Linked DNA regions of Homo sapiens: region 2 is linked to region 1. Evidence: fine-mapped expression QTL. Tissue or cell type: fibroblasts. Region 1 holds a variant in brackets; the other region holds the start of a gene. All regions are shown on one strand. Distances are between the middles of the regions.

What was found. PIP is the estimated chance that this variant, and not a neighbour inherited with it, causes the effect.
Region 2: it holds the start of SLFN5, and the variant in region 1 is fine-mapped to the expression of SLFN5 in fibroblasts (GTEx, PIP 0.95).

Annotation. Positions count from the first base shown.
Region 1 is chr17:35,269,356-35,272,199 of GRCh38, reverse strand. It overlaps SLFN5 (schlafen family member 5), which reads right to left. Exons shown (of 5, transcript NM_144975.4): 5 at 1-2,844. Among named protein-coding and RNA genes, the nearest start is that of SLFN5, 28 kb to the right of the region's middle. The variant C/T (reference allele first, on the strand shown) is at 1,158.
Region 2 is chr17:35,241,773-35,244,429 of GRCh38, reverse strand. It overlaps SLFN5 (schlafen family member 5), which reads right to left and starts at 1,358. Exons shown (of 5, transcript NM_144975.4): 1 at 1,287-1,358. It overlaps LOC105371932, which reads left to right and starts at 279. Exons shown (of 4, transcript XM_047437262.1): 1 at 279-319; 2 at 1,211-1,508; 3 at 1,605-1,804; 4 at 2,460-2,657. The coding sequence starts at 279. RefSeq lists enhancers at 315-943, 917-1,026, 1,547-1,606.

The DNA of each region.
Region 1 (2,844 bases):
TCATCTTGTTCCATTGACCCTCCACATATCAGCACCACATTGTTTTAATTATTGTAGCTTTATAAGATGTTTTAATATTTGGTCATGCTGACTCACTCAGGTTTCTTCTTTTCTAGATTTTTCTTGGATATTCTTGCCTCGTAGTTTCCAATAATTTTTTTTTTTTTGAGACAGGGTCTCACTCTGGCTGCCCAGACTGGAGTGCAGTGATGTGATTTTGGCTCACTACAGCCTCGACCTCCCAAGGCTTGGGTGATTCTCCCACCTCAGCCTCCCGAGTAGCTAGGACTATAGGTGCACACCACCACACCCAGCTAATTTCTTGCATTTTAAATAGAGACGGGATTTCACCATGTTGTCCAGGCTGGTCTGGAACTCCTGGACTCAGGCAATCCACCTGCCTCGGCCTCTCAAAGTGCTGGGATTACAGGAGTGAGCCACCATGCTTGGCCTTCATTAAATTTTAAAATCATTTCAATGCTATTGGGGAAAACCTGTTGGCATTTTTATTGGGATTACACTGAATTTATAGATTAACAGTGAAAATTGATATATTTATAATTTTTAATCTTCTTATCCAAAAACGTGGTCTGCTTTTTATCTGTTTAAGTTCTTTTTTGTGCTCTTTAGTTTCATTGTATAGTTTTATTGTTGCAGAACTTATATTTTCTTGTTGCAGTTATTCTTAATTATTTTATCTTTTTGTTGGAATTATAATATGGCTTTTTCTTTCATCGTATTTTCTAACTACATGTAGTCTGACATAATAGGCAATTAGAAAATAATATGTATAGACTTAACCTTATGTTTCACTAATTTATTTGTTCTCCTTTCCTTCTTAAAACCACTACTTTCTTCTCAATTCATTTTTTCTTGTTATAGTACGTTATTCATATACTCTTGCTAATAGCCCATCCCTATATGAATAGTTTTTCTGACTTGGAACAAGTAGGAAGTTTTTTAAAAATCACTTATAGTCCATCCCTGTATGAAGATGAATACTATAAGTACATTATTCCTACTTGTTCCAAGTCAGAAAATCTATTTATTTTGCCCTCGACTCTGAATGATAGTTTGGGGAGAGAAGTCTAGGTTTGATGTTGTTTTTCCACAGCAGTTTGAATATGCTACCTGTATTCTGCTTACGTCTACCCTTG[C/T]TAGTGAAATAGTTATTGTCAAATTCACACTTCTTTTTGTAGATTTTCCAAACTTTTTCTTTTAGGATTAAAAAAGAATCTTTGATGTTCTGAATCTTGATTGTAATGTGTTATGCTTGACCTATATATTCTGCCACTATTCTGGAAACTCTTTTAGTCAAAAGAGGTATGGTGGTGGTGATTTTACCCCCCAAGGGACATTTGGCGATGTCTGGAGACATTTTTGGTTGTCACAACTGACAACCAACCCTGGGGTAGGGGAGGGAGGGTGGTGGATTTGCTACTGGCGTCTAGGGAGTAGGGCCAAGGATGCTGCTAAACATCCTACAGTGCATAGAGAAGCCTCTCACAATAAATGGTTGTCCAGCCCAAAAAGCCAGCAGTGCCAATGCTGACAAACCCTGAGGTATGGGTTTTTTAGTTCTAGGCTTTGGTCTGGCCAACTGGGGGCAAAATGAATTTGGCTTCAGCCTCAGGGCAACACTTTCTGGCTGGGAGATTCTGTCCTGGCTTTGTGACAACGGTTGTCCTGGCCTGTGGTGGTGCCAGCCTCAGTGTATTACCGTGGTTTACCTAGATTTTCCCTACCTGTACCAATGACTCATAGGTTTTAGTTCATGGAGAGGCGCTTTTCTTGGTTGTGAGGATGGCTATGCATATGGCAATGTTTTGAAATATCTTCCCCATTATTTCTATGAGTTTGTTTTAGTAGAGGGCGATTTCAGCATGTGACCTTCAAGGTCTTTATGCAAAGGGGCAAAGTCAATAAAATTAATTCTAGCAATACTGAAAGAGAAAAGGAAGCAATAAATCACTCATAAACTCATCAACTAGAAATATTCAAGGTTAATAATATTCCAGAAAGCTTTTAAAAATATATCAGAGAAAATATAAGAACAGCTAGATAGAATTATGTTAAATCGAAGGATATGATACATAATATTTTAAAATTATTTTTATGTTTATTTCACTTGAACAAAAGAAAAAGCAACTAATAAAATTGAAGGAAGAGCTGAACTACCGAATATTTTTCTTTAACTCAAGAACTTTCAGTTACAGGAAGATTTATCTAATATTAAAATGACTAAATTACAAAAAGCATAAAATGTTTGAAGCCATTTTTAAAGTTGTTTTGAAATCCATATTAGCACTCAGACTTCCCCACTCCCTAACTTTTGTTAATTGCTGTAATGGACATTTGTTGTTTTGATCTACCCAACATCCTTTCATCCTACTTTGGTAACTGATATTCTTTGGGGGAACTGATCTTTCCACTTTACATCATGTTTTGTGGAAATTTTTCAACTAAGGAACCTGCCCTATGCTAGCTAAGAGTTGAGTACGGTATGCAAACTAAATAAGTGCAACTCTCTCACTGTAATTTAACCTCCTTAAATCAAGTAAAGAAAATGACTGTGGCCAAGTCACCCCTGCTACCTAGGTCCTTGTAACTGCCCAGGCACCTCTCCCTTCTAAGGCCTATTTGGTCAGCTTGTCATTTTATTCTATCAGGTCCTCCCTAATGATTCCAATAAATTATTTTTGTTTGTTTTTTTAAAATGATCCAAACCCTGGTTTTATGGATTGAAACAGAAGAATCTATCTGATATAAAAATATTTTTACTTTGTGAAGGTTTGTAACATTCTTTTCTGTAATTATAATTCCTATATATCTTAATTATATACA
Region 2 (2,657 bases), 28 kb after region 1:
CTTGGCTCTAAACCAACGCCCTCCCACCCGCTATTGGTAGGGGAGGGGAGGAACTATTGAAAAGTTCCCCCCATCCTCCCTCAAGCATCCCTTCCTGCCTGCACTAGTGACAAAGGATCCCCTTCTGGTGCAACCGAGCCCCTCAAGATTTCAGCACCCCAACATTTTTAGTGATGAAACCATGAAAATTCCGATGAGGCCCTTGCTTATTTGCATATGTTAACTACCCACTTTTTGCCCAATATTCCTTTTTCTAGCAATATAATTATAAACTGCTGATGCACCGTTTCTTTGTCAAGCAGGAGGATATAGCTTCAGAGTCAAGAAAAAAATTTTGCAGAAGGAATGAATGCCTTTAAGGGCATTGTGACCAGCTGCTGACGCCCAGAAGTCTGGTGGTTCAAGATGTAATCTGAGACGAAGAAAGACTTTTCCCCGAGGTTCCCTGAAATTCCCCCTCCCTTACTTCCTGGTCTCATAAAAACTCCCCACTACTTCTTTTTGTTAGGGTGGATTTGAGAGATCTTGACCTCTTGCCTTCTCGCTTTGGCCAAATGGAATAAATCTTCCTCTGTCTCCAAGCATCTGTGTGTCAGTGTTTGGCATCAACAGCACATCAGGTTCCTGAGCCTGAATTTGGGCTTCGACAACTCGGGCTCCCGGGACACATGCAAGAGGGAAACGGAATCACACCGCAGTCTCAGCCACTGCGGATATGACCAACTAGGGCTCTAGTTAGTCACTGTATGGGGGATACAGGGCTTTGTGGGCTACCCTAGTAGCCTGCCCCTGTTGTTACAGTTTGAAGACTGACGTTCCAAGCCAGGGGCTTATAGGCAAGCCTCTGGAACAAAGCCTCTTGTAATAGACTGGACATTGGCCCTATTTGTCCCCAGGCCACAACCCATTTAACTTCATCCTCGGGAGCCCCGATTTCGTCGTTTTCCCTTAAGTCCTTCGTGCTCCTGAACCGTGGGGAAATGTTGCCAGGTTTGGTTTGCTAAGATGTAGGCTGCGCTGGGTCGGCGCCTCTCCCTCCTCCCCAGCTCGCCCCGCGTTCCGAACCTCCCAGCTCCCGGGTCCTCTGCCACTAGCTGTCGTTGGAGGTGCTCCTGAGTCAACAAACTAAATCTCCCCAGCGGGAAAGACTCTCTCCCGGCAGCGCCCAGACCTGGGGAGCTGCAGTCGCCGCACCTTGTCTTCACCACAGCCCAATAGGAGAACCCGCGCAGACCGGGGGGAGGTTTGGGGAAGGCCTGGGCAAAGAAGCGCGGGGGATTCATTACCCGCTGGGTTCTCCTCGGCAGCGCGTCTCCCTCCGGGAGCAGGCAACGGAGCCTCCCAAGTCCAGAGCAGAGAACCTGACCCGGCGGGATCCCGGGCTTATATCAGCTGAGTTCCGTGACACCTCCCGGGGCGGGACATCGCGCAGGAGACAGACAGAGGTACAGCCCAATCGCATCGTTACGTGGAGCCGGAAGCCCACTCTTGCAACTACAACAGTCTTGGTAAACCTTGGGTGGACTGGGGAGAACTGAGGAGGGGAAGCGCTTTTTTGTTGCTTCTCTGTGTTTTCTATTTTATTTTATTTATTTTATTTTTAGATTTTCAGTTCTTATTTCACCCAGGGAAGGAGACCTGGGTATCCACCCCATGTCCTCCAGAGAACTTCCCTGGCCCCGCTCGGAGTCTTCCTGGGACGCCACAGGCTCGGAGAGCGCTCCGCAGGTTTCTCCCCCGGCGCCTCCAAATCTTTCGATTCCTACTCGAATTACTCCGTCAGCTGCTGGAAGAGGGGCAAGGGGTATGGCGAGACGCGTTGGTACATGGGGCACTGGGGGGAAGGGAAAGCCTCCCTCCTTCTCCTAGTAATTCGAGAATGTTGCGTCCGCCTCCTTTCTTTTGCTGGCGCTAGGGGCTCGGACCAGCACCTGCCAGGCATAGGTGTGGCCACTGGGGCGAAACCTGGCAGGCTCTGGAAACAGCGTTTTACTGACAGGAAAGAGAAACTGTTCTTTGTATTCATCACCCACCGCAGACTTCCTCACGCCCGGGTCTTAGGCGGGGCTGTCAGATTTCAGTGTGTTTCTCTTAATTCTAGTACTAAATTTGTACTGGGCGCTGGCGAAGGGCCTGGCTCCGCCACGCGCGGCCCTCTCGAACTGCCCGTGGGTACGGCGCGCGCTGCTGCCCTGTGTGGCCTGTGCGGGGAACCCGAGGGCCGAAGTGGGCCCCGCCGCAGCACAGGGGGACAAGAGAACCAGGAGCGGGCTGCCTGGGGGCAGATTCGAACCCGTGCTCCCAGCGGATAGAAGTAGCACTTGGGGACTCCTAAAATATTCAGCCCAATCCTGATTCCAGCTGCCCTCTCTAGGCACCTTTCCTCTACCCTTCTTCCAGTTTACAATTCTGGTGAGTAGATGTTTCTCTATCTCTTCTCTTCCAACTCCTGCGCCCAGAGCCAGGAGGACTTCTGGAGCCCGCCCAGCAAGACCCTCTCTCTCCCATCTTCTGCTCAAGGGCTCGAGGTCTCAGTGGACAGAGCTGAAGAAAAGCCGTCTATGGAGCCTGCGCCAGGCGCAGACTGGGTCGTCGCAGTCTGGGTCGTCGCAGTCTGGGCCGGGGCGCTGGAAGTCTTACTCACTTCTCAAGAACCC